Linked DNA regions of Homo sapiens: region 2 is linked to region 1. The links come from fine-mapping of genetic effects on gene expression. A gene starts in region 1. The other region holds a variant in brackets. All regions are shown on one strand. Distances are between the middles of the regions. Region 1 holds the start of DNM1 (dynamin 1). Region 2 has its middle 6.8 kb from the start of LCN2.

Region 1 (5,512 bases):
ATACTTAGTATAATCCCATTTCTGTAAAAACAAAATGGAACAAAATGAATATGTGCATATATGAAAAACAAAGCCAGAGAACGATCCCTAAGCTATAGTGGTTATCTCTAGGTGGGAGGATGACCAGAGGTTTTCAAATACTTGTGTAAAGTCTGGTTTTACAATAAGTTTCAATATTGTAATTAGGGGGGAAAAAGTAAAAATAATAAAAGCTGGCTGGGCATGGTGGCTCACAGCTATAATCCCAGCATTTTGGGAGGCTGAGGCGGACAGATCATGAGGTCAGGAGTTTGAGACCAGCCTGGCCAAGATGATGAAACCCCGTCTCTACTAAAAATACAAAAATTAGCTGGGCACAGTGGCGAGCACCTGTAATCCCAGCTACTCAGGAGGCTGAGGCAGGAGAATTCCTTGAACCAGGGAGGGAGAGGTTGCAGTGAGCTGAGATCACACCACTGCACTCTAACCTGAGCGACAGAGCAAGACTCTGTCTCAAAAAAAAAAAAAGAAAGAAATACAAAAAATTAGCTGGGCGTGGTGGTGCATGCCTGTAGTCCCAGCTACTTTGGAGGCTGAGGCAGGAGAATCACCTGAACTTGGGAGGCGGAGGTTGCAGTGAGCTGAGATCACGACACTGCACTCCAGCCTGGGAGACAGAGCGAGACTACGTCTCAAATAAATAAATAAATAGGCTGGGCACAGTGGCTCATTCCCGTAATCCCAACACTTTGGGAGGCTGAGGCAGGAGGATCACAAGGTCAAGAGATCGAGACCATCCCGGCCGACATGGTGAAACCCTATCTCTACTAAAAATACAAAAATTGGCCGGGCGCAGTGGTTCACACCTGTAATCCCAGCACTTTGGGAGGCAGAGGCAGGCAGATCACAAGGTCAGGAGATGGAAACCATCCTGGCTAACACGGTGAAACCCTATCTCTACTAAAAATACAAAACATTAGCCGGGCGTGGTGGCACGAGCCTGTAGTCCCAGCTACTTGGGAGGCTGAGGCAGGAGAATTGCTTGAACCCAGGAGGTGGAGGTTGCAGTGAGCCAAGATCGCACCACTGCACTCTAGCCTGGGTAACAGAGCGAGATTCCGTCTCAAAAAACAAACAAACAAACAAAAAATACAAAAATTAGCTAGGAGTGGTGGCACGTGCCTGTAGTCCCAGCTACTCGGGAGGCTGAGGCAGGAGAATCGCTTGAACCCAGGAGGCAGAGGTTGCAGTGAGCTGAGATCATGCCACTGCACTCCAGCCTGGCGACAGAGTGAGACTCCGTCTCAAAAATAAATAAAATAAATAAGTAAATAAATAATATTAAAAGCCCAGCCATGATGCCCTCTAGGCAAACATCTATAAACTGCACCCCCTCCTGGTGCCAGTCATCCAGGCTTCCATCTCTGCCTTCTCTTGTCCTCAGAGCATAATAACAGGTTGGCATGGAACAGCTGCCAGGTTCCATGCAAGTTGTGTGGCACTGATGCTCCAGCTGTCTGGTGAGCTGTTATCATTGGCATCCTCACAGCTGCAGCTTAATAAGGGCCCCCTGAGCACTAGGCCTGGGCTGTGCCCTACACAGGCATTTGATCTATTATTATCCCCATTATCCAGATTAGTTAACTGAGGTTCAGAGACGTGGAGGGACCTGGGTCACGCAGCTTGTTTAAGGCCCAGATTAGACTCCTAATCCACTCTCTGGTGCTACCAGGGAGAGGGCCTGCTTGTTCCCCATGCCTGCCTCGAAGATTCCTCCCCACAAGGGTCACTCTCTGATCACCATCTTCACAATAGCAACACCACCCTACCCCGCCCCTGCTTTCTTGCTCTGCAGGGCACGCCATCTAACAGGGCCATCGTTATTGCCCTATTTGCATATTGTCTGTCTTTTTCCACTGAATTGTCAGCCACATGTGGGTAAGGACTTTGTCCGTTTTGCTCACTGCTTTATCTCTGGAGTCTAGCATAGTACCTGGCTCAACAAATACGCATTAAATGGATGAGTAAGTGAACAGTCTCCAATTCACAGACCACTTTGTCAGCAGTGCCCCCACACTGTTCACAGCGCAGGGAAATGACTCACCGACTCCCCATGAGCACAGTGTAGGCTAGCCTTCCCTTCCTAGCCTCCACCGTGAATACTAATTAGGTTTCTTAAATGCAGAGATGGACGGCTGGGCTCAGGGCCCCATGGTCTGTCTGTGTGAAAGGGTACGCAGGGTAGGATTGTAGGAGCCCTGGATTTGAATCCCACTGTTTTACGCTGTTTTACCACCATCCTGATGGGTTGGAGCAAAGACTTCCACTCTCTAGGACAAGAGCTTCCAACTCTCCCAAGAAGGGCCCTCCAGGTGTCAGGGCCTCTGCACTTGCTGGTCATTCAGCCTGGCATGCTCTTCCCCTGATCTGCTTGCTGCTGGCTCCTTCTCATCATTTTGGTCTCTTCTCAAATGTCACTTCTGCAGAGAACACCCCCGACTCCTGCCAAGCCAATGTGAACTTTCCACACCCACAAAGATACCTTTTTTCACCCTGTTTATTTCCTCCATCCCTCTTACTATGAATTATTTTCATTTTTACTATTTCATTTATCTGCTTACTTATTTACTGTCTGTCTCCCCAGCTTGATGCAAGATCTATGAGGGCAGAGGCCTTGGCTGTCTTATTCGTTGCTGAATCTTCAGTGCCTAGGACAGGGCCTGGCTTCTAGCAGGTACCTAGTAAATATTTGTTGAATTCATGTTCCAACTTTCTCCTTCTAGAAACAAGGAAACTGAGGACCAAAGGCAGAAGAGGACATGTTGGAGATCAGAGTCAGGATCTAGGGATAGAAGCCAGCGAGATGAAGGGGAACTCATCTCGGAGTTCTGACCTCTGAGGTCAGGAGGCTGTGACCTCAGAGGAAGCCCATCTGCTCTCCAGGCCTGTTTCCTCATCGGTAAGATGGAGTGAAACATCCAGACCACTCTCCAAGAGGCCTGGTACTAGGAGTGAGACCCAACCCATTGACAAATATATTCTGCGCAGCATCCGCGCACCCCAGACACTGCTAAAGCACCCCAAAAGCCGCAGAAGGTGAAAACTACGACACCCATGATGCCCCGGACGGCGCCTGCGCACGGCGGCCGGCCCGCAGCGCCGCGGGCTCCCCCTAGCGGCGTCCGGGAGCGGTGCTCGCTCCGATCCCCGAGGGGCGGGGGCCCCGCGGCGCAGGCAGTCTGGGCGCGCGGCTGCAGCGGCGGAGCCGGAGTCGGAGCCGGGAGCGCTAGCGGCAGCCGGATCGCAGCCTGCGGGGCCCGCCGCAGCCATGGGCAACCGCGGCATGGAAGATCTCATCCCGCTGGTCAACCGGCTGCAAGACGCCTTCTCTGCCATCGGCCAGAACGCGGACCTCGACCTGCCGCAGATCGCTGTGGTGGGCGGCCAGAGCGCCGGCAAGAGCTCGGTGCTCGAGAATTTCGTAGGCAGGTAGGCGCGGCGCGCCCCCAGGCGCCGACCCCCGACCCCCGGGATCCCTGGAGTCCCCGCCCGGGGCACTGACGGCGCGGCGACCTCGCAGCCCCCGACGCTGCACCCGCGGCCGGCGCGCCCCCCACCCCCAGCCGGAGCGAGGAGGCCCTCCCCCCACCACGAGAGCCCCTCGGGGCAGCAGCGCCCCCCGCTAGTCTGCAAACGTCGTCAAGCCTCCGGCTACCGAATCACGCCCCCTCCTCCGTCCCATCCTTTAGGGCAGACAACGCTCTGCCAGAAGCCCCGGGCAAAGAGCTGCCCCCCGCCCCCAACATGGGCATGGAGAGAGCCCGCATTACTCAGCGTCTCCGTTGGGCTCCGGGAGTCCCTTGGAGCGGGCAGCACCCGGGGGCAGCGTCCCCCACACCGGGCTCAATGGGGGACATCCCCCTACCCCCATGGGAATTCCTGGGCCGTGGCAGAGGTCAGCCCCCGCATCCCAGTCCCTAGAAGAGGACGTAGTCCCGCGGGCATCGAGGACCGGGCACGGCCTCCCGCCAGCACACACACACCTCTGCGGCTCCCGCCGCCATCCGTGCGCAGCGCGGCGAGGGGGGAGGCGCGGGCTGCAGGATGAGGAAGGGAAGAGGGGAGGAGAAACCACTTCTTATCCTTTTCTGAGCAGCCGGCCCCTTGCTTCGCCACGGCCCCTGGGTGGGGGGCGCCTGTCAGTGTCGCCCTCCCCTTGGCCTGGCCAGAGGAATCGTGTTGGAGGGAGAGGCGGCAGAGGGCAGAGATGACTAAGACAGGGATGGCGGGAGGGGGGAGCCATTTGCAGAACCTAATCCCCCTCCCGCCTCTGATCCCACAAGGCGCTGAGAGGCCTAGGTGGCGGAGAGAGGAACAACCGCAAAGACAAAGGGTCGTGGGTTTAGCGGGGCAGGCAGGGTCGTGACCCGCAGGCTCCCCACAAACCCCCAAAGGGAGGCAGAAATAGTTTTTCTGGTGCTGAGGAGAGAGAAGAAAGATAGGAGCTCTCCAGGTACTGGAGGTGGGTTGGGGGGCTGGGCAGACTGGGGGATGAAGTGAGAGAGTTTACACTGACCCCGTCTTTCATCTCCCCCCCATCTTCTTCAGAAACTCTTGCTTTCTTCCAATGACCTTCAGGGCCAAAAAAGTGACTGGCACATGGGAGAGGGAGGCAGGGGCCCTTGTCCGCAGAGGTACAGCAGTTCTGTCCAAGCCAGGTTCTGCTGCAAAACCTCAGGCAAGTCACTTGCCCTCTCTGAGCCTCAGTGTCCCCATCTCTAACATGGACAGTGGGACTGGGTGGTTGTTCCTGCCCCTCAAATGTCCTGGGAAACCCATGCCAGCCCTAGAGGTGAGAGGGAGAGGGCCTGACTGGAGCCATGTGTGTGTGGGACGTTGGAAGGCCACCGTGGGGGCGGCCGTGCCCATCTGGTCAGCAGAGGGGAAGGCATCTGTCTCTCCAATGGCTCCTGCAGAGCCCCCCTTCTGATCACATGACCCCCGGAGCTGCAGAGACACAGGCAAGAGACACACCACGGGCCCCTTCCCCAAGGGCCAGCAGTCAGGGATATCCAGCAGTTTAGAATGGAGAAACCATATTCCTACCTCTCGTCCTTTGAATGTTGGCTGAACTCCTGCCCCATGCCAGGCTGCGTGCTTCAGGCTTGGGGTAGGGAGGGGACCAACTGGTGATTTCAGCCCGCATCTACTGAGCCCATCCCATGCATCCCCCTATGCTGAGTCCTTCATAGGCTCACAGGAGCTCCCAAGAGGCAGGTACCATGATGCCCATCCTACAGATGAGGAAACTGAGACCCTGGAGGTTAGATGCCTTGCCCAAGGTCACACATTCAGAAAGGGCAGCAGCTGTTAGACTCCAAAGCCCAATTCCTAATCTCGACGCTGCACATCCTCTGACAGCCGGGTCCTGCACCAGGCACAGGGACGTGTGGGTGGGTGGGCCTCCATTTCCCCATCTGCGGAATGGAAACGCTGACAGCCGCTGCCCTGCCTTCCTGAGAAGGTGACTGTG
Region 2 (5,000 bases), 60 kb before region 1:
GACACCCCCCAGGGATATTGCTCCCACGATGCTGGAGGGAAGAAGATGATATGACTGTCAATATGACAGAAGGTGGACACGCCCCCACTCATATTGTTTCTAATTGCAACGTGGGAGAGGAGGATATGACACGCGATATCGCAGGGAGTAGAAACACCCCTGTGATACTGTTCTTAATATTCAGGGAGGAAGAGGATGATATTACTCCCAATACAGACGGGTGTACACCCTCTGTACACCGAGGGTGTACACCCGTCTGTGAAACAGTTCATAATCTCCAGAGGGGGAGATGATCTTACTCACAATATGGTAAACAGGCTGTGAGTCCACCGCGGATCCTAAGAGCCAGCGGGGGAAGAGGGGCTGGCTCTCAGTCACCACAGCATGGGGGGCCTTTATGTTCAGGTTTTGCCCAAGAGTCAGCTTATTTACTTCTTGTACTAGCAGGGCAGTTCTGCCAAGGCCCTCAAACAGGGGGGCCATCCTTTAGAAACCCTGTCTAGTTGTTTAGAGACTTAGGCCACCGGCCTCAGCCAGGGCCCCACAGTTTGGGTTAAAAGTCCAGCTGCCATCTTTTCTCTCTCTGACGCATACAATGGAAAAGGCTTTGTCAGATCGGGTAGCCCCAGGGCTGGGGCTGCCAGAAGTCAGATGTTTTTTTTCTTCTTGAATCTCTTTTGTAAGTTATAGTTTTCTGGGAAATTTCCCATTTCCTTATTTATTGCATTCTTTCGTTACCTTTTTAATAGCTCTAGAACTCTATAGTTCTGCTCCCTTTTTATTTCTTTTTTTTTTTTTTTTTTTTTTTTTGAGATGGAGTCTGGCCCTGTCGCCCAGGCTGGAGTGCAGTGTCGCGATCTCAGCTTACTGCAAGTTCCGCCTCCCGGGTTCACGCCATTCTTCTGCCTCAGCCTCCCCAGTAGCTGGGACTACAGGCGCCCGCGACCACGCCCAGCTGATTTTTTGTATTTTTAGTAGAGACGGGGTTTCACCGTGTTAGCCAGGATGGTCTCGATCTCCTGACCCTGTGATCCACCCACCTCGGCCTCCCAAAGTGCTGGGATTACAGGAGTCAGCCATGGCGTCCGGCCTCCTTTTTTATTTCTATGGTTGTTTATTTGTGTCTTATATCTTTTTGTCATGAGAAATTTCTCCAAATTTCTATTCGATTAGTCTTTTCCAAGAGTCAACTTTTGGCTTCGATAGTCCCATAAAATAGGAAGATCTTTCTCTCTTCTTGATTTCTTCTCCTGATTGTTTTCTTTCTTTCCTTCTTTTTAAACATATTTTATTTTATGATTTTTTGAGACAGGGTCTTGCTGTGTCACCCAGGCTGGAGTGCAGTGGCACGATCTTGGCTCACGGCAACCTCCGCCTCCCGAGTTCAAGTGATTCTCTTGCCTCAGCCTCCTGAGTAGCTAGGATTACAGGTGTGCACCATGACACCCAGCCAATTTTTGTATTTTTAGTAGAGATGGGGTTTCACCATGTTGGCCATGCTGGTCTTGGAACTTCTGACCTCAGGTGATCCGCCTGCCTCAGCCTCCCAAAGTGTTGGGATTACAAGCATGAGCCACCATGCCCGGCCTCAGAGTCTGTTTCTTACTGGATCCTGTTGTCTGGTAGAAGGAGGTCTTCAAAGTTTCCAGACTCCTGTTCAGCCAGGATTGCTTTTGAATGGATCTTCCCCAAGGTTCGCTTGGGCCACAGGAAGACCAGACACCCCTGCCTGCCCTTGGGGAGTGGTAGACCTTGGGCAGCCTCCTCTCCACTGACCAGCAAGAGCAGATCCAGCCCATCCCTCACCTTTAGACTTTTCTTGGCAATAGTTGGACCCCAGTCCACAAGCTCCAAGGCTGGCAGTCAGCTCCTCCTCTACTGTGGTTCTCTGAAATGGCCCTCTTTGGGCAGGAGGCAGAGAAGCGGCTCTCTCCTAGTGCCTGCTCCTAGTGAGGATAATTAGTTAGAAGGAGAGAGACTCAGGTCAGGAAGGAAGGACCTTTGAGGCCTTTGCTTAGGAGGCAAGGCCCTCTGGGTGGCTTGTAATGCTCACAGCACATTTAGTAGGCGGGGACACATTGGATGTGCACTTCGGTGCCTGTATGTACCCTGAGCTACACAGGAAGGGGATGAGGCAGGGTGTGGGGAGGCAGGAAGAGGAGGAGACAGGCTGTGCACGGTGGCTCATGCCTATAATCCCAGCACTTTGGGAGGTGGAGGAAGGAGGATCACTTGAGGTCAGGAGTTGGAGACCAGCCTGGCCAACATGGTACAATGCCCAGCTCTTCCAAAAACACAAAAATTAGCCGGGCGTGGTGGAATGCACCTGTAATCCCACCTACTCAGGAAGGCTGAGGCACGAGAATTGCTTGAATCTGGGCGGACGTTGCAGTGAGCTGAGGTCACGCCATTGCACTCCAGCCTGGGCAACACAGCTAGACTCAGTCTCAAAAAAAAAAAAAAAAAAAAAAGAAGAGAAGGAGACAGTGGGAGGGAGAAGGGCCAGGCTCCCACCCCCCAGCCCCAGCACCTGCCTGGGACACAGCTGAGCCCTGAAGCTCTTCAGCCCTGGGCTGGGGGCTCTCTGAGCAGCCCAGCTGCAGCTGTCTACACAGGCGGGGCTGCCCATGACCCGGGTCCCCTCCTGAGAAGAGTCCAAGTCCCTTTGTGAAGAGGTCTGTAGTGCAGGTGGCCCAGGACAAGAGGAATCTGGGGTGTGGGGAGAAGGGGTCTATGGGGTCAAGGAGACTATGCTGGCTGCAAAATGGCCCCCAAAATATATCCATGTAAATGAATAATGTAAATGTAACTTTATGTAGAAAAAGGTTTCAAAGGCTGGGCATGGTGGCTCATACCTGTAATCCCAGCACTTTGTTTGGGAGGCTGAGGTGGGCAGATCACTTGAGGCCAGGAGTTCGAGACCAGCTTGGCCAACATGGTGAAAGTGCATCTCTACTAAAAATACAAAAATTAGCCAAGCATGGTGGCACACACCTGTAGTCCCAGCTACTCGGGAGGCTGAGGTGGGAGAATCGCT[T/C]GAACCAGGAAGCGGAGATTGCAGTGAGGCAAGATCGCGCCATTGCAGCCTAGCTAACAGCGAGACTCCGTCTCAAAAAAAAAAAAAAAAAAAAAGTATTTGCAAATGATTAAGGATCTTATTCTTTATTATTTTTTTTAATTTCATAATGGTTAACATCCTAATGCCTGTTCTTTTCTTGGTGCACATTTGTTACAGTACCTAATGCCTGATTTTTAAGGTGAATGAATGACGTATGTATATTACTCAAAGGCAAATGACACATAAGCTATTTTTTGTTGTTGGTGGTGGTGGTGTGGCCCAGATGTTTTTCCTCTCCTGAAGGGCAAGAATTTTCTCATTCCTTTTGGATGTTGTTTGTTTGTTTGTTTGTTTGAGATAGGGTCTCGCTCTGTCACTGAGGCTGGAGTGCAGTGGTGTGATAACAGCTCACTGCAACTTTGTGGTAATTTGCTGTAGTAATTTGATGATTTGGGAAATTCTCAGCTTCTCTAGATTGCAGAAGATGCTAACAATAGGAAATTCACTGTTAAGAAAGTGAACTCTTGAGAGAAAGCCAAGGGTGTGGCCTGCGGATGTGGGGAAGAGGTGGCCAAGCCAGGGGCCCCGGAGGTATGGGAAGGAAGGGACCTGAATCAAGGGAACCCAGCAGTGTGGGAGGAGGTAGTTCAGGACAGGGGACCCAAGAGTGTCAGGAAGAGGTGGGACCCAGTGGTGTGGGGAGGTGGCCCAGGACAGGGGGACCTCGGATTGTAGGCAGAACCTGGAGAACCACGAGACGCTTCAGTTGGGGCAGATCCAGGCTGAGCTCCCAGGGAGGGGCGCTTGGGACTGCAGTGACCTGGGAGAGGCCAGTGCCCACCCAAGGCCTGAGGGAGTCTGGGCCCAGGGAGAGGCACCCAGACCTGTGCCCTGCAGCCTTGGGCCTGCCCATCATGGCAATGCAGAGGGCTCCCCCTCCTGACAGGTGATTCTGAGAGTCACAGGACAGGGCAGGGAGTGGTCCTCCCTCCGGCCCAAGGTCTGGGCCACCAAACTTTGTACCCAGAAACTCACACTTCCCCCTCAGACCTCTGACCTGGGCCCTCTGAGAATCGGGCTGAGAAGGACAGTGGCCAGGTGAAGGCCAAGGTCTCTGGGTGTTCTCGGCATCTCCTGCTGCTCTGCCGCTGGCACTGCCCTCCCTTCCCCTCACCCAACTCTGCACTGGTCCAAGTTGTCCCCTCCTTTTGAAGGTGGACACGCTTTCCCTTTGGAGCGAGATCTGGTCCTCGCTGCCTGTCACAGCCTTGTTCATGTCCCCCTCCCCCAAAGAGGGAGGCTCAGCCATGGAACCCACCCCCTCAGCTGAAATAAACACGTGCTGCCAAGGAGGAGTGGGGGCTGGGTCTGCGATGTCCATCCACCACTGGGATGAAGTGGAGGGCATAGAGGCTGCAGCCTGTTCCATCCTCAGCCCCCGCAGGGCACCAGAGGGGCTCCAGGCAGGAGGCTGTGTGTTGTGGTTCTGAAGCCAGGGATGTCTTCAGGGACATTTGGTCTCATTTGACCCTTCCGGAACCTATTACCCTGCCCCCTGGGCTGGGCACGCTCCTGGACTGTCCTGGGCTCTCGGGAGAACCAGCTTTCAGGAGAGCCAGACCGGTCCTCTCACCCAGCCACCTCTGATGGTGCCAGCGGAGGCCCAGCCAAGGACCTGGAGAGCAGGGAGCACGGGAGCATGTGGGGTAACGCAGGGGTGGCCGCAGTGGAGATGCCCCTTTCCTGGGGTGCTGGGGGCTGCAGTCCGGGCAGGAGGGGTGCAGAGCTGGGAGGAGCATTGGTTTTGAGCAGCACCAGGACCATGTGGGACAGAGGCCTATGACAGAGGGACTGCGGCCCAGCTCCATGGGAGCCTGGCATCCACCACTGCCTGCCGCTGCCTGTGTCCACCCTAGACCCTGCTCAGAGCCTTGACGTCCAC

Evidence for each region. PIP is the estimated chance that this variant, and not a neighbour inherited with it, causes the effect. A credible set is the group of variants that fine-mapping cannot tell apart.
Region 2: its variant is the best candidate, but not a certain one, in a credible set for the expression of DNM1 in whole blood (TOPMed, PIP 0.79).

The regions. Positions count from the first base shown.
Region 1 is chr9:128,200,164-128,205,675 of GRCh38, forward strand. It overlaps DNM1 (dynamin 1), which reads left to right and starts at 3,216. Exons shown (of 22, transcript NM_004408.4): 1 at 3,216-3,468. The coding sequence starts at 3,308. It also overlaps a transcript of CIZ1 not described here. RefSeq lists enhancers at 2,899-2,998, 4,430-5,002 and silencers at 3,059-3,278, 3,847-4,141.
Region 2 is chr9:128,140,161-128,145,160 of GRCh38, forward strand. No RefSeq gene overlaps it. Among named protein-coding and RNA genes, the nearest start is that of LCN2, 6.8 kb to the right of the region's middle. RefSeq lists a cis regulatory region at 1,966-2,139. The variant T/C (reference allele first, on the strand shown) is at 3,038.